Regions from separate parts of the Homo sapiens genome. Here regions 1 and 3 are each linked to region 2. Evidence: fine-mapped expression QTL. A gene starts in region 2. Each other region holds a variant in brackets. All regions are shown on one strand. Distances are between the middles of the regions.

Region 1 (8,183 bases), 840 kb before region 2:
AGAAGAATCCCTTGAACCTGGGAGGTAGAGGTTGCAGTGAGCCGAGATCTGGCCACTGCACCCCAGCCTGGTGACAGAGCGAGACTCTGTCTCAAAATAATGATAATAATAATAATAATAATAGGCTGGGTGCAGTGGCTCATGCCTGTAATCCCAGCACTTTGGGAGGCCGAGGCGGGCGGATCACCTGAGGTCAGGAGTTCGAGACCAGCCTGACCAACATGGAGAAACCCCGTTTCTACTAAAAATACAAAATTAGCTGGGTATGGTCGCACATGCCTGTAATCCCAGCTACTAGGGAGGCTGAGGCAGGAGAATTGCTTGAACCTGGGAGGCGGAGGTTGTGGTGAGCTGAGATCACACCATTGCACTCCAGCCTGGGCAGCAAGAGTGAAACTCTGTCTCAAATAATAATAATAATAATAATAATGTGCACTGCTTTGAATATTTAACCCTTTTCTGCCATTGAACCATTAGAGTCCACATTTCCTTTTCTATCCAATATGAGAGACTTAGATCCATTATAATTAGCAGTAATTAGTGTTATGTTGGAGATGATGGGCATAGTTAGTCTCATTCCCACCACCTCATTGTATGATTTCTGTGTTTTTGCTTTGTTTATAAAATCTCTTCCTGCCTTTTTTTTCTTTTCTTTCTTTTTTTTTTTTTTGAGACGGAGTCTCACTTTGTTGCCCAGGCTGGAGTGCAGTGGCATGATCTTGGCTCACTGCAAGCTCTGCCTCCCAGGTTCATGCCATTCTCCTGCCTCAATCTCAGGAGTAGCTGGGACTAAAGGCACCCGCCACCACGCCTGGCTATTTTTTTTGTATTTTTAGTAGAGATGGGGTTTCACCATGTTAGCCAGGATGGTCTCGATCTCCTGACCTCGTGATCCGCCCGCCTCGGCCTCCCAGAGTGCTGGGATTACAGGCATGACCCACCGCGCCCGGCCTCTTCCTGCCTTTCTTAAGTAGACTGTTCTGTTTGGGTAAATTTGTTGTTTTCCCATAGTGTTTTTGAAATTCCATATCCCTGATTTGTTAATATATTCTCTTAGATCTCAGGTGCACAGGAAGAAGGTAATCATGTACCTTAGCTCAGGGCACATTATGGTGGCTGCTCTCAGCAAGGCCCTTACTGTCTTTCCTTCTTTTCTCTGTTCATCCCACTCCCATTCCCCTGTCCACTTCCAGACACACATTCTGAGGAGTTTAGCATATGCTCTTTTATCCTACACTTTCTCTGCATATTTTAATAAAGGGATGTCTGGGGAGAACACACATTGTTCTTTGGGGGTGAGGGGTGTTAACTTTATTTTATTTTATTTTATTTTATTTTATTTATTTATTTTGAGACGGAGTCTCGCTCTGTCACCCAGGCTAGAGTGCAGTGGCCCGATCTTGGCTCACTGCCAGCTCCACTTCCCAGGTTCACGCCATTCTCCTGCCTCAGCCTCCTGAGTAGCTGGGACTACAGGTGCCCGCCACCACGCCTGGCTAATTTTTTGTTTGTATTTTTAGTAGAGACGGGGTTTCACCATGTTAGCCAGGATGGTCTCGATCTCCTGACCTCGTGATCCACCCACCTCGGCCTCCCAAAGTGCTGGGATTACAGGCATGAACCACCGCGCCTGGCCTAAAACAACTTTAAAATGTGAATGGTTTCCAAAAACCCATTTCATCCTCTTTACTCCATTCTGTGAACTACCTTCTCAACTTTTCTATTCTAATACAAAAGTTTGTGTATAGGCCGGGCACAATGGCTCACGCCTGTAATCCCAGCACTTTGGGAGGCTGAGGGGGGCAGATCACGAGGTCAGGAGATTGAGACCATCCTGGCTAATACGGTGAAACCCCTGTCTCTACTAAAAATACAAAAAATTACCTGGGTGTCCTGGCACGCACCTGTAGTCCCAGCTACTCTGGAGGCTGAAGCAGGAGAATCGCTTGAACCCAGGAGGCGGAGGGTGCAGTGAGCCAATATCGCGCCACTGCACTCCAGCCTGGGCGACAGAGTGAGACTCCATCCAAAAAAAGAAAAAGAAAAAGAAAGATAGAAAGCAAGCAAGCAAGCAAGCAAGCAAGCAAGCAAGACAAAACCAAAATATCAGAGATGATAAATTCGCTGGATGGGATTAACAGCAGATTAGACGTTGCAGAAGAAATGATCAGGGAATATGGAACCATGAATAATTGAAAATATGCAAAATGAAACTCACAGACAAAAGATTTTTTTTTAAATGAAAAGATTATCAGTGAACTGTAGGGCAGATTTAAGAGGCCTAATTTATGAGTAATGTGAGTCCCTGAAAAGGAGCGGGGAGGAAAGGAAGCATTTATTTTCTTTCTTTGTTATTTTTATTACGAGTGGGGTTTCAGTATGTTGCTCAGGCTGGTCTCCAATTCCCGGCCTCACTCAACACCTCCTGATTCCTGAAGGTGTGAGCCACTGTTCCCAGCCAATTTTTGAAGAAACAATAGCTGAAAAGTTCCCAACCATAATGAAAATTATAAATCCAGTGACCCAAGGAGCTGAGGAAACCAAAGCACAAGAAACATGAAGAAAACCACTGCTAGATACCTCATAATAACATTGCTGAAATCCAGCCAGAAGAAAAAGACATTGTACCTACACAGGAACAAAGATGAGAATTGCCATCAACTTTCTTTCTGCTCTCGCCGGCCCCCACTGGGAGCAGCAATGCAATGGGAGCAGACAGAGAAGCAACATCTTTAAGGTACTGAGGGCAGAGGAAGTTAACCTAGAATACTCTGCCAGAAAAAATAAATTCCCAAAACTGGAAGTGAAGTAAGGACATTTAGAGACTTACATAAGCTGACCGAATTCACTACCAGCTGACCCACACTACAGAAACGTCAAAGGAGTCTTCCGGGCAGAAGGAATCCAATACCAGATGAAAATCCAGATCTACATGAGGAAATGAAGAACACCAGAAATAGGTAACTATACTAGGTATTTTCTTATTTTGTAAATTTCTTTTGTAAAAGTTTGACCATTTAAACAAAAGCAATAACAATGGGTTGTGGGTTTATAACATGCGTAAAAGCAAAGTACATGTCAGCAATAACTTCAAGGCCAGAAGGCGAGGTTTAATATCACTTGAAGGTTGACTGTGTTCAGTTAAAAAGGTTTGCTATAAGCCCTAAGGGAATTACTAAAGTAACAAAAGAAAGAGTTATAGCTAATAAGCCAACAGAGGAGAGAGAATGGAATGATATAAAAACCGTGTGAACACTATGATGGAGTAATTGCTCTTCCTATAGTAATTGCACCTCTATCCTATAGAAATACACCAGTGGCTGAAAACGCCGAAAATGCCCGTACAAGAATGACTAGAACATTATATGTAATCATAAAATCACAGAACCAATTTAACTTCAAAAGCGTATGGAAAGGGCTAAATGAATGACAGTAAACAAACAAACAAACAAACAAACAAACAAAATAGAGAGAAGGCCGGGCGCGGTGGCTCAAGCCTGTAAT[C/T]CCAACACTTTAGGAGGCAAAGGCGGGTGCATCACGAGGTCAGGAGATTGATACCATCCTGGCCAACATGATGAAACCCCCGTCTCTACTATAAATACAAAAATTAGCTGGGCGTGGTGGCGCGTGCCTATAATCCCAGCTACTCGGGAGGCTGAGGCAGGAGAATCGCTTGAACCAGGGAGTCGGAGGTTGCAATGAGCCGAGATGGCGCCACTGCACTCCAGCCTGGTGACAGAGAGAGACTCCGTCGAGAGAGAGAGAGAGAGAGAGAGAGAGAGAGAGAGAGAGAGATCCTAGAATCCTAGCGGACCTTGATTTACGTCCTCATGTCGTATGGGAGACACGGAGGAGAGGCGGGTAAAGTTGGTCTTGCTCTGCCATTCCATGAGAGAATGTGCTGGGTAGAAGAAAGTTGCCAGCGGTTTAAGCATTTTTAAAATGCAAGAAACGCTCAGTAGAACGAGCTTGAACCAGCCAACTCCAGACTTGGAAGCAAGCACACCACCCGACTGCGACATACGGACAGTCGACCCTCGCTCCGGCATCACCATGCAGAGCAAGCGCCCATCCAATGCTAGGCGGAGCCACCGTCTTTTGCAGAACAATTGTGCAGGTTCCAAAGCCTCGGAAAACCGGAGAGGCGCATCTTGCCGGCTACGGTTGAAACCCGTTCACTGGGTGATTCTGAAGCTAGAAGGGCAGCCGAATGGCCTTCCCCCCGTCCTGCCCCTCGTCCACTGTAAGCTCAGGGGGGAGCGGGACCCAGGGAGGTGAAGTGCACAGACTCGGCAGAGGCGGCGGGCAGAACCGCGGGGGTGAGAGGGCGCGGTGGCTGTGGGGCGGGAGCCGCTGCTGAAAGGAGGCCTGGGTTGTTGGGAGGGTGACTGTCCGTGGAATCTTTGGCGGAGGGTGGTTTGGAAGAATGGCGAGGGGAGAGCAGAGGAGAAGGTGGTGACCCTGATCGTCGGCCAGGGGAGAGTAGGCTGTGCTGTCCCTCCTCTCCCCTTATGTGGCGGGGGACATACAGTGGTCAGGAAGGGGGTTCTCCCTGGAGGAGGCTAGTCCACCACACTTCGGCTCCGCTGACCCCTGCGATTTCTCCACATGCGGGGCCCTCGTCCGCGGTGGTGTTTGCGCTATCCGGCGGCTGGGTTCGCGCACTCACTCTCCTGACATGCCTTGGCTCACCGCCGATGTGGATATCGCCGCCAGGGACCCTTCCCGCCCTCCTACGAATCTTGAGTGCGCTTCCTTGGTGTTCTCACCGAAGCTTACGAACAGACAGATGTGAGCTCTCTGTCTTTTACACGCTGAATTTGGCTATAGCAAAAAAGCCTTGACCAAGAGCTTGGGTCTCCTTCGGACCTGCACACGACTCCCCAACTCCCGCCTGCAACGGCGGCTCTTGGATCCCGGGCAGGCAGCGTCCACCCAGCGTGGAACCGTGGCAGCCGCAGCCCCCGCAGGTTGGAGGGCAGACACTAGCAGGAGAAAGGCCACAAGGCCTGCGTGGTGGGAAAGCATGGGAGACGTCGCTTTCCTACCGGGCGAGAAGGTCTCCCTACAGTCTTTGGAGACAAGATGGAGGGAGGCACCCCTTCCAGGAACAAGGCGGCTGCTCCTGAGGCCTGGCTCCGCACGGAGGCTCCTGGGTCCCGCGCGCCCTCTCCCTACCCGCTGTAGCCAGAGCTGCTTCACATATCTCAACCGGCCTCCTCCTCCTCCCCAGCCGTCCTTGGGACAGCAAGGCCCCCAGCCCGTGGGAAAGACCTAGCCTCCTCTCCAGCACTTGGAGAGGGAGTTGGATGCACGTCTCTTAACCCCAGGAGGACAGAGACCCTGAGGCAGGAGGGGACCCCTTCCCTTGCTGCTTCTCTTGGCACAGCCGGTCCAGGGGGCTGGCTCAGGGCCCAGGACTCCTCGCTCCTCCTGGAGGGCCTGGGTCGCGTGGCCCAGGAGCTGGCCACATGGGCATCTCCCGCACTGCTCCTCAGGGAACGGGAGGCATTATCCTGCAGGGCCCACTCTTACCCATGAAAGACACTCGGGAAATGCTCCTGCGGAAGCTGGAGCTCTGCGCGTTTGACCACTTAGTCTGTCCGCCCATCCTTCCTTCGGAGGGTCTTGGGGAGAGAAGAAATGCTCCTTCGGAGGGTCTTGGGGAGAGAAGAAATGCTCGAGGACGATGCGCTTTGCAGCGTCTCTACCAACATCAGAAGAAAGCAGGGCGCGTCTTCCTGGAAGAAGGCGGCCGGAGGCCTGCGGTCGCAGGGAGGCTTGCGGGGCAGGAACGCCCTATCTCCGCCGTGCTATCCAGCGGCTTGCAGCATCCCACCTGGCGGACTCCTCTTCCTCTCTCTTCTACTGTGGCTCTTCTATCCTGGTGTCCCTTGAATGCCTATCTTCCTTTTGTGCCTCCAAACCTCTCACGCCCGCCCCAAGTTACTCATTTCCTTAGTTGTTCTGAACTTTAAATAAGGTAATGCATGTAAGATTGCATAAATGCTCAATAATTGTCATCTGTTATTATTTTCATCAGTAACATCATCTGAATCATCAGTATTGTCTATTTTTAACAGCTGCATTTTTCATTGTCCGAATATAGTCACATACATTTGAACATTTTATAATTATTGAATAATAAATTCGTTCTGCTATTTTACAATAAAAAATAATGCTGCAGAGTGTATTCTTACACATATATCTTGGCAGATGTAGGCCAGAGGCTCTTCTTTGGCCATTCTGTGGCCAACCTATCAATGTATACACTTTTAATGAGATTTTGCCAGCAATCAAAGCCTTCAGTGAAAATGTCCCTAGCTCTTTACTACATCGGATCAAGGACTCTGGACAGTAGGCACAACATCCTGGAATATTGTGGAATATCTCCTGAAACGGAGATATTATTCTTTCCTCTCCTCTTTTGTCTTTGTCTTTTCACAACATCTTAATGACAGTGCTGGCGACAAGAGTGTAACTATATGTCAGTGTTCTGCTGTCCTTGCCTGTGTGGGTCTTCTCCCAAACCCGACTTTCCTCCAGCAGCTTCACTGAAAAAGAGGAGGGGGCTGCGGGGGTGGGGGAGTGGGGCGGGGAGGGGAGGAGGAAATAAACTGAATAGGGAGGAAGCAGCTCACAGGCCAGGAGAGGGTAAGGAAGGGAGTCAAAGACAGAATTTTCTTCAGCAAACAGTAAAAGGGGAAATCCGGGGACGCTAAGAGTTTTTAAACCTTTGCTCCATCACATAAGTAATCCATGATTTTCCGTTACACAAATCAGCACTCCTACTCCTCCCTCCCTCCCCACCCCCAATCCTGATTCCTGTTTACAAAGAATGCTCAAAAACAAGGAATTATGTATAACAGTTCCCAGTTTACTCAGGAAATTCTCAGATTACAAAGAGACTTTACGAATAACAAGTGAAGAGAAGAACCTTAGTGGTTCCAACATAGTATGGCCATCGTTTTATACTCAAAATATAGAAAGACAACCTCAGAATAGAATTGAATAAATCAAGTTTATCATTAAAACGCAAAGAAAAAAAAACTCTCCAAACGTTGCTGATCTTCTGTTTTAAACTACTGTTAGACTGGTGAGCTGGAGAGCCGGGGGAATCCACCAAAGATTTTTGGATGAAAATTAATCATCCCTTGTCCACCGTAGTCGCACCCCAATGCCCCTCAGATCCAGTCCTTCGAAGGAGTGTCCAAGAGGTATAAAGCAAAACCGGAAAAACAGTTCCCAAATTCTGGAGTTTGTTTTCTCTCATTAAAAATATAAATATCAGGCTAACACCTATTGACACACAATAACAGGGACACAGAATCCCTCCCGGAAGACCCATGGGCCCACGGACCCCGCGGATGCCACAGTGGTTGACGAGGTTAAGTAACTGGGTTCAGGGTGTCTGGGCATACCTGTGCGTGAGACTCTGTCTCCGCTGCTCCCCTCATCTCCACTGCTCCCCTCGTCTCCCCACGATCCTCCCTTTTCCTTGGGCCGCTGATGGCTCTCCGACTCACGAAGAGTCTCCCTGGCCCCTGCAGCTCTCTCCTTCCCAGACCTTTACTTCTTGATCCTCACTCCATAGTGAGATGTGGCCTAAGGTAGGGGAAAGTCCAGCACGAGAATCCGTCTGATGGCCTTTGGATTACTCAGGGGTGTGCCCGGAGACTAGATGAAAGTAGCAAAGGCTTTATTTAGTTCCCAGTACTCCAAACTGCAGCAAACCACCGGAAACACCCCCACTTTCAAAGACAGGCTTTGAGCAGAGGAAATGTAATTTCAAGATTAGATCCAGCACAGAGAATATTCCAGAGGTGGCAGGTTTAGCTTCCAGCCACCACGACTCAAGGCCCCTAAATGCTGTACAGCCTGTGTAGTACAATAACTTTGTTGGCTAGAAATGTAATAGCCCTTCAAGCATGAACTTGGAGCATGAAGGGTAAGAAGGCCTGCTTTGGCCGGGAGTTGAACCCAGGTCTCCCGCGTAGGTGGGGAGAATGCCACCGCTGAACTACCAATGCTCCACTGAGTGCGGTTTCACTAGATCTAATTTTGAAGAGTCTCTGGAAGGACTTTGAAGCAGTGTTTCTAAAATAGATTTGTATAGGACTCTTGAGTAGACACACCGAGCAAACAGAAAGGACACCCAGAGCAAAGCCTTGCATAGGAGACGT
Region 2 (8,183 bases):
ATTTTCATACAATAAAAATTTACTTTTTATTGTACAGTTTGGTAAGTATCAATAACTCCACTGCAGTCAAGATACAGACCTGTTCCATACCTCCCCTTCAAAATTTCTTCATGCCCTTTTGTAGTCAATCACTCCCCACCCCCCACCCCCAAGTCCTGGCAAACACTGATCTGTTTTCTGACCGTATAGTCTTCCTTTTTCCAGAATGTCACATAAGTGGAGCCTGGCTTCTTTTACTTCCCATAATGCATTTGAGATTCATCAATATTATTGTATGTATCGAGTTATTCTTTTATTACTGAGTAGTATTCCATTTATAGCTATGCTACATTTTAATTATTGATTCACCAGATGTATTAGCCTATTTTCACACTGCTATAAAGACATACCTGAGACTAGGTAATTTATAAAGAAAAGAGGTTTAATTTACTTATAGTTCTGCATGGCTGGGGAGGACTTCAGAAACTTACAGTTATGGTAGAAGGGAAGCAAGCTCATCTTATGTGGCACAGGGGAGAGACAGTGAGTGTGTGTGAATGAAGGAAGAACTGCCAAACACTTTTAAAACCATCATCTCTGGTGAGAATTCATGCACCATCACAAGAACAGCATGGGGGAAACCGCCCCCATCATCCAATCACTTCCCTCCCTTGACACGTGAAGGTTATAGGTCCTTCCTTCAACACGTGGGTATTACAATTTGAGATGAGATTTGGGTGGGGACACAGAACCAAACCATATCACCAGGTGAAGGACATTATGTTTTTTCCATTTTAGGGTTTGTGTTTTTTCTATTATATGAATAAAGACATATATGTGTTTACAGGTTTTGTGTGAACTTGTTTTTATGTCACTCGGATAAATACCCAGGAGTGGGAATTAGTATGCTGCATGATTAAGTAAATGTTTAACTTTATAAAAAAGATCAGATTGTTTTTTGAAACAGTAACCATCAAGATCAGATGTTATACCTATCCTTGGTCATAAATGGAGGATGAAACTTGGTGAGTGGAGATGGGAATATAAACCTCCAGATGCCCAATTTAACCTGTCATCCAGTTCTGTAAAATCAATCCTTCATTCTCACATCCTCACTTCTCAGAGGAAGCGAGGTCTCTTTAGCAGTGTGTGTAAAGGCTTGCATGTGAGGCTGCCCATGTTATTTTTCTGTTTATTAGGCAGAATGATTGATCTGAGGAGACCAGTGGCAATGACATCCTAGACACAGTAACATCAGGACAACCCATTACTTTTCCTATTACCTCCTTCTTTTCCTTTCCTCTAGAAAGAAAGAAGAGCATTGGGGTGACAGCAATAAATCTAAAGGGAACAATTATACTGATACTGGTTAAGAGGATCTTGTATCTTTACTTATTCCCGAATCTAAGAAAAAAAAAAGGAATTTGGGACTAAGGAGAATTCATTCTTCCTACAGTGTCACATTACATTTGTTCTGTGTCTAAAACCTGCAATATTCAAAACTGACTTTTATTATTAACTGTTGAGTGACTTACAAATGTTGTTAGAGCAGAGCAGGGCAGAACAGTGTCATGGATAATCTTCCAAAGCAGATAATTCAAAAGTCATTTCCATTTAGCTGTGCAAAAACAGTTTATTTCTCTCCGTCAGTTTTCCATTGGTTAACGTACTTTGTTTCTGCTAGGCTGATTTGACTACTGCAAGGAAATACATACCAAGGACATATTATTTGGCATGGTGAAACCACCTTGGGGTCAGAAAACTGAATACTACACAAGTCAAGGTTTAATGTATTATGTATCTTCAAGGGCCTTGCTTCAGTGTCCTATGGTAAGGAATTGAGGGGTGGAGGGAGAAAAGTAGGGATAACCAAAAAGCATGTACTCAGACATAAAGATTTTGGAGGGGTGAGCAAGAAGTTGCAGTAAAATCGTACCTTTTTTTTTTCTTCCTGTAAACTGTCTTTGGTTTATGAGCCAAAGAATGAGTTTATAAGAGGCAGAGCAAAGAATAGGGGAGTAGTGAATTTGTTGTACTTAAGTGGGATGTCAACTTCATAATATAAAAATGAACGTTTCAGCAAATAGAGCTGCTCACTCAGAAAGGGTGGCCTATGTAACTTGGGGTTCCCCATCATTGGCCGTGTTTAAGCCTAAGTGGCATATCTGGTTAGAAATGGATTACAGTAAACAGTATTCCTGTATCCTTCATTCCGCAAATGCAAAAGCCTACTCTGTATAAGGTACATGCAGAATATGAAAAGGTATCAAATCTGGATCTGCTCTCTGCCAGCTGTCAAAGCATTGCTTCTCACACACTTTAATGTGATCTTGTTAAAATGCAGATTCAGAACCCTGGGGATGGGGCCTGATTCTGCATTTCTAACAGGCTCCCAGTTGACGCCAACACTGCTGGTCTGTGTAACACAGAGTGATAAACGTTTCTAGAAGGAGACATGCAAATACTTATAATACAAAGGTAAGTACCTTAGGGATTCCACTAATTTTCATAAAAAACCTGGATCCCTCCCAACCCTAGGGCTGTCTTTGCCCTTTTTATACCTTTAGTGTTCCTTCTGATGTTTTCGTTGTTGCTATCTTCCTTGAATTTTATTTCTTCTGAGGTTTCTCACTGTGTATGCTGTTTCTTAGCCTAGGAGAGCCTTTTCGTTCTTCTCCTAAGACTAACATTTTACTAATTTGTCAAGGAGCTAGAGCTCCTAAACACGCCATCTTGAATTCTTCCCTGCGACCCCAGTCGGGCTGAAAGCTCCTTCCTTGTCGCTCCCCACTGAACAGATTTTTCTTGGGGCGGGGAGAGGGGGACGGAGTATCGCTGAGTCGCCAGGCTGGAGTGCAATGGCGCGATCTCGGCTCACCGCAACCTCCGCCTCCCGGGTTCAAGCGATTCTTCTGCCTCATCCTCCCAAGTAGCTGGGACTTCCGGCGCGCGCCACCACGCCCAGCTAATTTTTGTATTTTTAGTAGAGCCGGGGTTTCACCTTGTTGGCCAGGATGGTCTTGATCTCCTGACTTCGTGATCTGCTCGCCTCAGCCTCCCAAAGTGCTGGGAATACAGGCGTGAGCCACTGCGCCCGGTCAGAACAGTTTTAACCTCCAGCAATGACCACTGCTTCCTTCTGCCTGCAGTTGGAAGTCAGTTTCAGTTTTCTTATTCCCTATAAGGAACCCACCTCTCCGGTCGCCTAACACACAGATGCTGCCCAGAAAACGTGCTGGCGCACCTGAGGCGGGGTAGAAAGCCGTGCCGCTCCTCCCGGCACCGAGCACCGGAGCCCAGGGAGGCGGCCTCCGAGTGTCATTTGGGGACGTCCCTTCTGCCGGGTAGTCTCAGAGGCCAAGCGCTCCTATTATCCCGGGCGCAGTCTCCCCAGGCGGGACAGGCCCTGCCTGGCGCCCCCTCCTGGCGCTGGAGGCTGCGTGCGACTGCCCACCATCGAGGCGGCGGCGGCGGCGGCTAGAGAGGCCGGCGGGTCCCGGGCGCCGAGGCTGCAGGCCGCAGGGAACGCGCACTGGGCGGACTCCGCGCCGCCGGCCTTGTAGCCATTTTAGGAGGAATCGCTGGTCGCCAGCGAGGGGTGCGGCTTCAATTTCAATAACTTTATTGGTGGCCTGATCTGCAGAACAGCCATCACATCAGTGGCCCTTGGAGGAGGGAGCGCATCGCCCGAGGTGACTGGAGTGGGGGCGCCCCTGGCAGTGAGCGCGGGGACGCGGGGGAGGTCCCGATAGCGGGTTTCCTGAGCTAGGGCCAGTGAGGGCACCGGGGTATTTGCAGGCGTTCCCGCAGGCCAGGAGGGAGAGGGCTCCAGGGCTCGGCTTCCCTGGGGCGGGGAATCCCTTGCCCTGTCCCGAGGCGCAGGGGCGGGGCCGGGGGGCGCCCCTGACGCGGCGGCTGAGGTGTTCCCAGCCCGGTGTCGTTCCCCGCGGTAGGTGGTCCCCGACGAGCTGCAGCCATGGGAAACACCACCAGCGACCGGGTGTCCGGGGAGCGCCACGGCGCCAAGGCTGCACGCTCCGAGGGCGCAGGCGGCCATGCCCCGGGGAAGGAGCACAAGATCATGGTGGGGAGTACGGACGACCCCAGCGTGTTCAGCCTCCCTGACTCCAAGGTAAGCGTCCCATGCCCGCAGTTGGTGTCAGTACTGCAGCGGGTTGATTTCTGGGCTCCTCTTCCCTTTCTTGGTTCTTTTCTACCGCGCCGAACCGGGCTATGGTTTTTTGAATTAAAGGGATTTATCGGGGACAGAGGTGTTGGATGATAATTCCTCTTGAAGTGCCGCCTCAAAATAGGATAAAGAGGCGGAGTTCTTGCTTTCCTGGTGTTCTGACTAATCTGTTGGCCACATTTTTAGGATGGGGACAATAGACATCCCCCCATCCCCGATCCTCCGAGCACGAATGGCTCTCTTCCATAGCGTTGCTGAATTTGTAGTTTGTAATCCCTGGTGGACAACTTCAGAGGGTAGGTTGCACGAGTTGCTGACCATAGGTGGTAGTTTCTCACCTTTGCCCTGAGGTGGCTAAATGAAATTCTTTTTCTGAAAATTTCTATGTATCAGTATCATTTTTGCTCTTCTAGCAGCTCTACAGTTGTGATCCTCTTCCCTTTTGGCACGGCTGTAAGCAGCAACTACTTGCTTATTGAATACTTTCTCCTAGTCTTGGGGATCAATTAAGGACATCATTTAGTTGACTGCTTAATTTTTGTCCCATACTTTATAGTTGTGGTGGCTGAGGCTGTGCCTCTTTCACGCCCCGCTGCTGCTCCGTAGGTGGAAGAGCCAATGATTCCACGACTTGTTTACTCCTCAGTAGTACTTCAAAATGTTGCGTGGCTAAAAAAACGACAACCCACAGCTGCCCTGAAGACCTTGCTCTCAATTCCAAGGACTTTCAGGAAGAGAACAACTTGTTTTCACTCTGTAAGAAAGGACAGATGGAGCTGATAGCAGCGATTACCATTCTAATGTTTCTAATGGCTTTCAGAGCTGTCAGCATGAAATACAAGTAATTCCTCCAGGTAGACTGACTGGATGAGATAGAAAAATGGAGGGCTTGAGGAGATTCGGGTGTGTTTGATGTTTCCTATCATTTCATCACTTCCCAGGGAACTGGGGCTTTAGAGAGTGAATAGAGTATTGTTTGCCATATTGGTAGCACATGGAATTTGGATTCCATGATTTATTTCTTTGGATCTCAATTGATAACATCATCACAGCCTGGCGCAGAGGCTCACGCCTGTAATCCCAGCACTTTGGGAGGCCGAGGCGGTTGGATCATTTGAGGTCAGGTGTTCGAGACCAGCCTGACCAACATGGTGAAACCCCGTCTCTACTAAAAATACAGAAAAAGTAGCCGGGCATGCTGGTGCATGCCTGTAGTCCCAGCTACTCGGGAGGCTGAGGCAGGAGAATCGCTTGAACCCGGGAGGCGGTGGTTGCAGTGAGTTTAGATCAAACCACTGCACTCCAGCCTGGGTGACAGACTCTCAAAACAAAAAAACAAAAAAACAAAAAAACCAACCATAATCACAGAGAAGTGAGAGTGATTAAAAGGAGCACTTATTGGGGTTTATTCTCCAATTCTCCATTCTTATTTGGGCTATCTACAAGCCATCTGAATTTACTTCTTCAAAGCTTTCGAAAGGTGATCCGCCTCATTATATTTTTACCCTTTTCCTATGTTGATGACTCAGGATTTAAATACAGTGTATTTGTCGAACTGTGACTGCAGTAATTGGTGTCCTGATTAAAAGCCAGGTTGCTCTGTCTGAATTGGGGCCTATTTTGTATTATTCTTATCTCTCACCTCAGTCTTGGCATTTGTGAATTAAGAAAATTATTCATATAATTTTCAGATTGTCTGAAAATCAGATAATTCCTAAGGTCTCATTTAAGTCTAAAATTTTATAGTTCTCAATGTAGCCTCTTTACTTCTAAACTCAACATTTTACTTAAACATCAAACTGTAGTTCTGATTGTCGTTTTGCCTCTTTTCCTGGTAGTTTTGCTGAGTAACTTGGAGTAAACAATCTTTCTGCTAGTCAGTTGCATTCATTCCTACTACAGAAATGTCATGTCATAAGTGGAAGGGCTTTCCTCCAAAGCTAGGCATATTAATAGTTTGTAGCTTTCAAATTCTAAACTGAAAATCCTGTCATAAAAGTAACTGACAGAAACAGTGGCAGGGGGGCCTACTTTGCTTTGAATGCCTGCCTTTTTCAGTGGACTAGTTCAGTGGTTCTCAATCCTGTTTGCACATTAGAATCACCTCAGATTTCTTTAAATAGTTTTTGGAAAATTTGAAACACTTTCAAAGTAGGGGGAAACAGTATAATGACATCTATATACATGCCACCCAGTTTGAACAATGATCATATCTTGAATGAACATATAACATCTATACCCCAGTCCACTATTCTCCCACTAGTTATTTTGAAGCAAATTCCCAGATATTATATCAAGTATTATTTTATCTGTAACATTTTAGGATGTACCTCTAAAGATGAGGGTTTTTTCTTTGTTATTTTAACATAATCACGGTATATCTGGGAAGCTTTTTTTCCTTTATTTTAACATAATCACAGTGTTATCTAGAAAGCTTTTTAAAAATAGGTTCCCAGATCTTACATCCGAATCTGAGGGTTATTCTTAGGCATATGTCAAATTCTTGTAATTCTAACGCAGCCAGTTAGTCAAGAGTGCATTGTTCTGAGAATATGTAGTTTTCTCTTAAGTCAATTCCTTATGTGAAAGTCCTTTCAATTCTCTTTCTCTATTTACTTTGGATTATCCTGCTACTGATATGCTATACTGTAGTTTTGAGGAATATCAAGAGAATGTATGGAGGGAAGCTATGTCAACCATTTTGAAAAGAAAGCCCAAATGAATAAGCTAGTCCTTTTTTTAAAAAAAAACCCACATTATTCAATTTAGTAATATTTAGGCTTAATACTATACAGTCTTATTTACCAAAGTCACTTAAACCAGTCTAAAATAGGGGTCAGCAATCTTTCTGTAAAGGGCCAGATAGTAAATAGTTTAGACTTTGTAGACCATACAGTCTCTGTTATAGCTACGCAATTCTGCCACTGTAGCCTGTAAGCAGCTATAGACAATATAGGTAAGCAAGGCAGGTATGTTGGTTCACACCTCTAGTCTCAGCTTCTCTGGAAGCTGAGGTGGGAAGATGGCTTGAGCCCAGGAGTTCGAGGCTGCAGTGAGCTATGATTACACCACTCACTGCATTCCAGCCTGGGTGACAGAGCAAGGTCCTTTCTCAATCAATCAATCAGTAAAATAATAGGTAAACAAATGGGCAGAGCTGTTTTCAAATAACACTTGATAAAAGCATCTGGCTTACTGGCTGTCTGCCAACTCTTGGTCCAAAGGATAGTAATGAAAAGAAACAGGAGTTACTGTTTTTACAATCCCATAAACCTCATTTGATAAGAGAGCTACTTTTGATAAAGGAAATTGTATTTTTGATCTCTTGCTTCTTGAGGTTCTAGAATTTTTATTCCTACTCCTGAAATAATTAGTATAAGCCTGGGATAGGGGAATAAGTAAGATTTCATAGCCACTTCTCAAGTTTTAAGAAATCAGTGATCTAGTTTTTGAATTTTTAATGTTTCTTCTTTTTACTTCTTAGCTGAAATACAGTTTATGAATTACTTATGAATTTTGATATCTCTGACTTCCATTACAACTGGTAATTGAGAGCTATTCATATTTGCCTATAAAAATATATGGCTGACTTAATTATCTTTTACAGAACCATACTTTGTTTTCATTTTTTTTTCCTCTGAAGAAAGACTCAGAAGCATATCATAATTGCCTGCCTATGAGTTAAACTAGTGGTAGGGAGTTATTTTTTTCTTTTTTTTTTAAGGGAGAGTCTAAGGCTCTGGAAGGGTAAGTGACACAGGTAGACTCAAAAGTTAGGCTATGATTTAGGCAGTGCTTGAGCATAGGCCATTTGACCATTTTTGGTCCTAGATGAGTTCTTTTTCTATAATTTGTTCAAACTCTGATTTAGTTGCTAATTTTGGGGTTTATATCCTTAGCCAAAGCCTAGCACCCTTCTCTATCCTAGGGAGGAGAGTGACCTTTTTAGAATTCTTGGGTCACAGTTTATTCTAGGGATGACCTACTCCTTCTTACAGCTCCCTGGGGACAAAGA
Region 3 (8,183 bases), 30 kb before region 2:
CCCACCAACAGTGTAAAAGTGTTCCTATTTCTCCACATCCTCTCCAGCACCTGTTGTTTCCTGACTTTTTAATGATCGCCATTCTAACTGGTGTGAGATGGTAACTCATTGTGGTTTTGATTTGCATTTCTCTGATGGCCAGTGATGATGAGCATTTTTTCATGTGTCTGTTGGCTGCATAAATGTCTTCTTTTGAGAAGTGTCTGTTCATATCCTTCACCCACTTTTTGATGGGGTTGTTTGTTTTTTTCTTGTAAATTTGTATGAGTTCTTTGTAGATTCTGGATATTAGCCCTTTGTCAGATGAGTAGATTGCAAAAATTTTCTCCCATTTTATAGGTTGCCTGTTCACTTTGATGGTAGTTTCTTTTGCTGTGCAGAAGCTCTTTAGTTTAATTAGATCCCATTTGTCAATTTTGGCTTTTGTTGCCATGGCTTTTGGTGTTTTAGACATGAAGTCCTTGCCCATGCCTATGTCCTGAATGGTATTGCCTAGGTTTTCTTCTAGGGTTTTTATGGTTTTAGGTCTAACATTTAAGTCTTTAATCCATTTTGAATTAATTTTTGTATAAGGTGTAAGGAAGGGATCAAGTTTCAGCTTTGTACATATGGCTAGCCAGTTTTCCCAGCACCATTTGTTAAATAGGGAATCCTTTCCCCATTTCTTGTTTTTGTCAGGTTTGTCAAAGATCAAATAGTTGTAGATATGTGGTATTATTTCTGAGGGCTCTGTTCTGTTCCATTGGTCTATATAAGAAATAATTCTCTCTTTGACATGGGCTTTCTTTTTAAGAACCCAAGGCATTGTTTTGTAGAGAGTCTCTAAATTTAGACTTGCATAATTTTTTTCCTTTATTATATTCAGGTTAAATGTTTTTGACACATATACTACATAGGACATGTTGATCTTAGTGGGTCACATCAAGAACCACATTATGTCAGTTTATCTCACAGTAATAATGCTAAATTTGACCACTTAGATAAGGTGGTATAGATACCATCAAGTTTCTCCACTATAAAGATATTTTTTCCCGTTGAAGTTAATCAGTGGGGTGACATTTGGAAACTGTGTTTCCTAAAAACCTTTCACCTAATTATTTTAGCATGCATGTTTTTGGTGGTTGCAAAATAAATTGAGGCTTTGTTGAATAATAGGAGATAGCCAAACAAATAGAGCAAGGGTATAGCATTCTAATTATAAAGACAAAGTCTTGGAACAGCAAAAAATACATTATGCTCCAGGACTTGCATGTAGTCTGGTATGGCTGGACTATATAGCAAAGATGGAAGAGTGACTGAATGTATCTCCAGGTTCATCAGGCATGAAAACCTTTGGTTCCTCCGCGGTCTTCTGAGCGGTCACGTGAACGGCTTCCTGCAGGCTGGCCATGGCGCTTCAAGTTCCCAAGGCTCCGGGCTTCGCCCAGATGCTCAAGGAGGGAGCGAAACACTTTTCAGAATTAGAAGAGGCTGTGTATAGAAACATACAAGCTTGCAAGGAGCTTGCCCAAACCACTCGTACAGCATATGGACGAAATGGAATGAAAAAAATGGTTATCAACCACTTGGAGAAGTTGTTTGTGACAAATGATGCAGCGACTATTTTAAGAGAACTAGAAGTACAGCATCCTGCTGCAAAAATGACTGTAATGGCTTCTCATATGCAAGAGCAAGAAGTTGGAGATGGCACAAACATTGTTCTGGTATTTGCCGGAGCTCTCCTGGAATTAGCTGAAGAACTTCTGAGGATTGGCCTGTCAGTTTCAGAGGTCATAGAAGGTTATGAAATAGCTTGCAGAAAAGCTCATGAGATTCTTCCTAATTTGGTACGTTGTTCTGCAAAAAACCTTCGAGATGTTGATGAAGTCTCATCTCTACTTCGTACCTCTGTAATGTGTAAACAATATGGTAATGAAGTATTTCTGGCCAAGCTTATTGTTCAGGCATGCGTATCTATTTTTCCTGATTCTGGCCATTTCAAAGTTGATAACATCAGAGTTTGTAAAATTCTGGGCTGTGGTATCACTTCCTCTTCAGTATTGCATGGCATGGTTTTTAAGAAGGAAACAGAAGGTGATGTACATCTGTCAAAGATGCAAAAATAGCAGTGTACTCTTGTCCTTTTGATGGCATGATAACAGAAACTAAGGGAACAGTGTTGATAAAGACTGATGAAGAATTGATGAATTTAAGTAAGGGAGAAGAAAATCTCATGGATGCATAAGTCAAAGCTATTGCTGATACTGGTGCAAATGTTGTAGTAACAGGTGGCAAAGTGGCAGACATGGCTCTTCATTATGCAAACAAATATAATATGATGTTAGTGAAGCTAAACTCAAAATGGGATGTCCGAAGACTCTGTAAAACAGTTGGTGCTACAGCTCTTCCTAGATTGACACCTCCTGTCCTTGAAGAAATGGGACACTGAGACAGTGTTTACCTCTCAGAAGTTGGAGATACTCAGGTGGTGGTTTTTAAGCATGAAAAGGAAGATGGCATCATTTCTACCATAGTACTTCGGGGCTCTACAGACAATCTGATGGATGACATAGAAAGGGCAGTAGATGATGGTGTTAATACTTTCAAAGTTCTTACAAGGGATAAACGTCTTGTACCCAGAGGTGGAGCAACAGAAATTGAATTAGCCAAACAGATCACATCATATGGAGAGACATGTCCTGGACTTGAACAGTACGCTATTAAGAAGTTTGCTGAGGCGTTTGAAGCTATTCCCCGTGCACTGGCAGAAATACTCTGGAGAAAACTCTGGAGTTAAGGCCAATGAAGTAATCTCTAAACTTTATGCAGTACCTCAAGAAGGAAATAAAAATGTTGGATTAGATACTGAGGCTGTAGTCCCTGCTGTAACGGACATGTTGGAAGCTGGTGTTCTAGATACTTACCTGGGAAAACACTGGTCTATCAAACTCGCTGCTAATGCTGCAGTCACTGTACTTAGAGTGGGTCAGGTAATCATGGCAAAACCAGATGGTGGGCCCAAGCCTCCAAGTGGGAAGAAAGACTGGGATGATGACCAAAATGATTGAAATTGGCTTAATTTTTACTGTAGGTGAAGGCTGTATTTGTAGTAGTATTCTAAGAATCGCGTGATGTTTTCTTATTCTCCTTACATTAAGAGGTATTTTGTGTTTGTATTCTTGGCTGGATGTTATAATAAACATATTGTTACTGTCAAAAAAAAAAAAGGAAACCTTTGGTCTACTAAATAAAAAGTATGGAATGAAGACAGTCCAAAGCCATTCAAAGATTTAGGCAAGTGAGTAACATAATCATACCTACATTTTAGAAAGACCATTTTGAAAATGGTGTGGGAGTGGGATGAGACAGGAGGTCCTAAAGACAATTGTATCATCTGGTTGAGATAACAAGGAGTAGATAAAACTATCTTGGGGATGTTAAGAGGAGAAAGGGAAAAGGCTTGGTGACCAGATATATAACTCATGGTTTTGTGGGTTGGGCAACTATATGGATGGATGGTGGTACTGCTGGTGAAAAGGAGTAGGTTTGGAGAAAAAGATGAAATCATGAGGTTGGAATGCAGAACACAATCGACCTAGTGTCAAAGCATAACTAAATGCAACAAACCAGTAGTGGTAATTTAAACATATAAAATTCCTGAGGCCAGGACAGCTCTGTCTGAAGATGAGTTAATATAGTATTCAGGCATTAAGACTACTTTTTAGGCCAGGTGCTGTGGCTCACGCCTGTAATCCCAGCACTTTGGGAGGCTGAAGTGGGAGGATCACGAGGTCAGGAGTTCGAGACCAGCTTGGCCAACATGGTGAAACCCTGTCTCTACTAAAAATACAAAAATTAGCCAGGCATGGTGGCAGGTGCCTGTAGTCCAAGCTACTCGGGAGGCTGAGACAGCAGAATCACTTGAACCTGGGAGGTGGAGGTTGCAGTGAGCCAAGATCATGCCACTGCACTCCAGCTTCGGCAAAAGAAGTAGAGACTCTGTCTCAAAAAAAAAAAAAAAAAAAAAA[AG/G]AACTGCTTTTTAGAAAGCTCCACGATACTAGAAACCAGCCTTATTATTATTAAAAGTAATGGCAAAAAAATAAGCAATTACTTTTGCACCAACCCAATGTTTCCAGTATCCGTATCCTACGCTGTCCCTAGGAAACAATAACAAGCCCGAAGTATACCAAGATAATTCACTGAAAACAACTTTGAGATAAATTCTAAAATCCTAGGCTGTGTATCATTGGACAAGTCACATAACTTTTCTAGGCCTCAATTCCCTCATTTATAAAACCTGGATAATGACACCTATTCTGCTTCCTTCATAGAGTTTTGTGAGAGTCAAGTTAATGCATGTAAAAGCAACTTATAAACTGTAAATTGCTACATACATGTAATTTATCATACAGTTTGGAAAACAGTGGCCTAAACTTAGCTCTTGAGCCTTTGAAACTGGAAATGAGACTGAACAGAATGTTGACAGCTTAGTTCTGTCAGACTTCTTGGTATGAGAATACAAACTATTGACCTGTGGCCTTATCATATCACACACAGAATATTATTGTTACTTGAGAAATCATATATGCACTCCTCAAACAACACTCTTCCTTCACTCCTCCAACACTCTCCCTTTCAGTGCATCCAGGGTCCAACTTCAGATCTGATCTTGATCTGTGCCAACCTAGTATAAATTAGACCTTTTCCAAACTTCATGCATAGACCAAGGGGAAGATTATTGGCATCCTGTTTACCTCCACCAAAGCAAAATTTTACTTATGTGGTACTGATTTCTCTTTCTCTCATTTCTCCACTTGATCTTTGTCACGACTCACAGAGCTCTGAGTCAGCATCCAACCTTAAATGATGACCTGCCAAATCGTATCATTTCTGGCTTGGTGAAAGTGAAAGGAAATGTGAAGGAATTCACGGAGACAGCTGCCATATTTGAGGATGGCTCCAGGGAGGATGACATTGATGCTGTTATCTTTGCCACAGGCTATAGCTTTGACTTTCCATTTCTGGAAGATTCCGTCAAAGTGGTCAAAAACAAGATATCCCTGTATAAAAAGGTCTTCCCTCCTAACCTGGAAAGGCCAACTCTTGCAATCATAGGCTTGATTCAGCCCTTAGGAGCCATTATGCCCATTTCAGAGCTCCAAGGACGCTGGGCCACTCAGGTATTTAAAGGTAAGTGACCATGCAAATAGACTACTTAATTACTTGGTGATATGTTTACCTCTGTTTAGGTACTTGTTTTTAAATAGCTAGAGATAGCATGTATGATTACAACAGTGCCTAGCACAAAGTTAGTACAGAAAAATATATTTTTGAGTGAATCTAAAGTAGCAATTTATAACCATGGACATACATCATACCTGGGAAATTTTTCCAAGCTATGCATGCTTTGACACCATCCTTGCTGATGCTTATTTAGTTAGTCTGGGGTGGGGCAGTCATAACATCTTTGAGAAAAATATTCCCCAGTAATTCCAATGTGTACTCCAAATTAGAATTTACTCATCTAGATTTTAGGCAACTGGCATATATTTCTGAAGTAAAATAGTTTTATCTTCTTTCATTATAGATAAAAATAAAATATAGAAATAGTATGACTTTATTTCGGCCGAAAATTAAGACCTGGTTGCAGACTAGTCAATATTGTAGGATATTCAATCCCCCAAATTCTCACTTTTCTCCTTTTATGTCCCCTCTTTCAGTTTTGGCTAGGAATATATGAAAAAAAAAGGGGAATAGGTTTCATATGAGTCAGTAGAATGATATAGCTTCCAAAGAAATAATTAAATCTAGCATCATTAAAAAACTATAATGTTCTAGAACATTACAACTGTTGTTCTCTAAACTGGCCAGACCACACCTAATGATACATTTTAAAAGTGAAGCTGGAGTGCGTTTAATAAGGAGAGAGAGAAAAATTTTTTAAGGGATTTGAAAACATGCCATCTGAAGTACAACTGAAAAAGCCGGAGAGAGATTTAGCCTGGAGAAGATAAACTTCAGGAGAGATATGAGAATTTCCTTCAAATATCTGAAGGGAAGGCACATGGAAGAAGGATTAGATTTACTCAGTATAGCTTCAAAGGGTCAAACCAGAATCAAGGAGTGAAATCTTGAGGGTTACACATCAGCTTACCATTAAGAAAAAAATCCAAAACCTTTTTCCTATCAGCCAATGCCATTTCATGATGGAACCAGCTGCCTCTGAAATTCTAAGCAGAAAAGGAAAAGGATGCCAAATGACTGAATGCTCACTGGGCCGGGGCAGGAGAGGGGGAAGGTATGGAGTAGATTCAAGCCTCAGGATAGAGAGAAACAAGATGATGTTTAAGGGTCCTTCTAAAGAAGAAATTCACTGATTCTATGGTTGTTATAACAAAATTTGCTATTGTTACTAGCATTTAATTAAAACTACTCAGAGTTCCTGTTGGAATTACACCTTTTTTGTTTTCACTAGTGAAAATCTTCACAGTTGCAGAGAAAAAAAGAACCAATGGTATTACAGTTGATAGTTCAACAACCTTTCTAAATTTCCCCAAATTTCTATTACTTCCAGTCCTATCCAGCAGATTATGTACTACCTGAGAGAACTATACAAGTAGTCAAACGCAAATAGCCCATTAAGTTGGCCTAATTCTAGTCATATTAAAGTGATCTTTTAATTGGGTCAATTACATAAGCGGAGAACAGTTCATTAAAACAGGCCACAGCATCTTAGTATACTTTAAGCAACTGGGACTCTTTTCCAAGACCAAGTGAATTCTTGAGAGGAAATAGAGAAAATGAGTATTTGCAAGAGTCTGCATTATGGTTATGAGATTATGGGATCTTAGGGAAAATGTACAAAAAGCCCAGCTTCCTATGCTAGCAGAAGCCTAGTGCTAATTCCTCCAGCTTTTTTCTAACACCTGGAAGGAAGAAATCTTCAGAATTCTCTAACTTTACCAGACTTCCAACAGGAACTCTGGGTTTTTTATTCTGTCCATGGCCAATCTGTCTGCCTCCCACATTCTTGCCTTTCTCTTCCCTGAATTATCCCTTCACTATGCCAATTTTAAACCCTTTGGATTAGCTTGTTTTTCCCATTTTTTTCATGTCTGCCCAACAAAGCCTGCCTCCTTCCTTGTCTGTTCCCTACCAAGCCCCATTTTCCTTCTTCTTCTGTTCTCTGGAATTATTGTTCTCTTGTCAAGAAAATATTCTACTCTTTTCTAGAACACTGAATTTACTTCCTTGCCTTGACTGAAATGAAACATAGTTTCTGTTTTGATTGCGTCTTTTGCAGCCCTTGCAAGTGTTTTATTTTCACTCAGCAACTTTCTTTCCTTCAAAACTATATCAAGTTACACCAAATCTCTGGATCACAAGAAGTCATTATGTCATAGGCTGGCATTAAAGTTCCTCCACAAATTGGATACAACCTCCAATTTCAGGCCCATCTTTCTTTCTTTTTTTTTTTTTTTTTTTTTTTTTGAGATGCAGTCTCGCTCTGTCGCCCAGGCTGGAGTGCAGTGGCGCTATCTCGGCCCACTGCAAGTTCCACCTTCTGGGTTCAGGCCATTCTACTGCCTCAGCCTCCCCAGTAGCTGGGACTACAGGCGCCCGCCACCATGCCCGGCTAGTTTTTTTGTGTTTTTAATACAGACGGGGTTTCACCATGTTAGCCAGGATGGTCTCCATCTCTTGACCTCGTGATCCGCCTGCCTCAGCCTCCCAAAGTGCTGGGATTACAGGCATGAGTCACTGTACCCGGCCTCAGGCCCATCTTTCACTAGTCTTTACCATACTTCCTACAATACTCTAGATGCACTGGATGACGTACCCACTAAGCAGCAAACACAGCAGGTACCCTTGTACCCTGTGCTTTTGCTTCCACTGTGCTTTCTTCTTGATATGCCCTCCTTTTACTTTTTATTTCTATAGGAAAAGTCTATGCATATTTCTTCCCTCCCTTTGTAATATAGTGATAGCTCCTTAAGTAAAGGACTCATGTTTATTTGCCTTTGTATTGCAAGCCTAGACCACTGCCTAGCACATAAGAGGTATCTAATAAACATCTATTCTAAGAAATGTCAGTTTAGCCTTGAGGTAAATTAAATTCTAAATTCTGATGTAGAAACTTCTTATTTGAGGATCTCAGCTTATGGGCTACCTTAGCCAATTTCCAGTTATGTTAAAAGCCTGAA

Alleles and levels. Alleles are on the strand shown, and positions count from the first base shown. SD is a standard deviation of normalised expression in the study named.
For the expression in anterior cingulate cortex of the gene that starts at base 3,630 in region 2, allele C in region 1 goes with a higher level than allele T (large effect, 0.87 SD a copy in GTEx).
In carriers of allele AG in region 3, the expression in monocytes after LPS of the gene that starts at base 3,630 in region 2 tends to be higher than with G alone (moderate effect, 0.51 SD a copy in Quach 2016).

What was found. PIP is the estimated chance that this variant, and not a neighbour inherited with it, causes the effect.
Region 1: its variant is the best candidate, but not a certain one, in a credible set for the expression of PRKAB2 in anterior cingulate cortex (GTEx, PIP 0.53).
Region 3: its variant is the best candidate, but not a certain one, in a credible set for the expression of PRKAB2 in monocytes after LPS (Quach 2016, PIP 0.81).

What each region holds. Positions count from the first base shown.
Region 1 is chr1:148,010,906-148,019,088 of GRCh38, reverse strand. It overlaps a transcript of GPR89B not described here, the pseudogene PDZK1P1, the pseudogene TRR-CCT6-2 and the pseudogene RNU1-129P. Among named protein-coding and RNA genes, the nearest start is that of TRQ-CTG3-2, 18 kb to the left of the region's middle. RefSeq lists enhancers at 4,512-5,223, 5,224-5,935. The variant C/T (reference allele first, on the strand shown) is at 3,505.
Region 2 is chr1:147,167,917-147,176,099 of GRCh38, reverse strand. It overlaps PRKAB2 (protein kinase AMP-activated non-catalytic subunit beta 2), which reads left to right and starts at 3,630. Exons shown (of 8, transcript NM_005399.5): 1 at 3,630-3,671; 2 at 3,933-4,111; 3 at 8,167-8,183. The coding sequence starts at 3,956. It also overlaps a transcript of CHD1L not described here. RefSeq lists silencers at 3,301-3,530, 3,701-3,970.
Region 3 is chr1:147,198,138-147,206,320 of GRCh38, reverse strand. It overlaps FMO5 (flavin containing dimethylaniline monoxygenase 5), which reads left to right. Exons shown (of 9, transcript NM_001461.4): 7 at 4,817-5,169. It also overlaps a transcript of CHD1L not described here and the pseudogene CCT8P1. Among named protein-coding and RNA genes, the nearest start is that of FMO5, 23 kb to the left of the region's middle. The variant AG/G (reference allele first, on the strand shown) is at 4,008.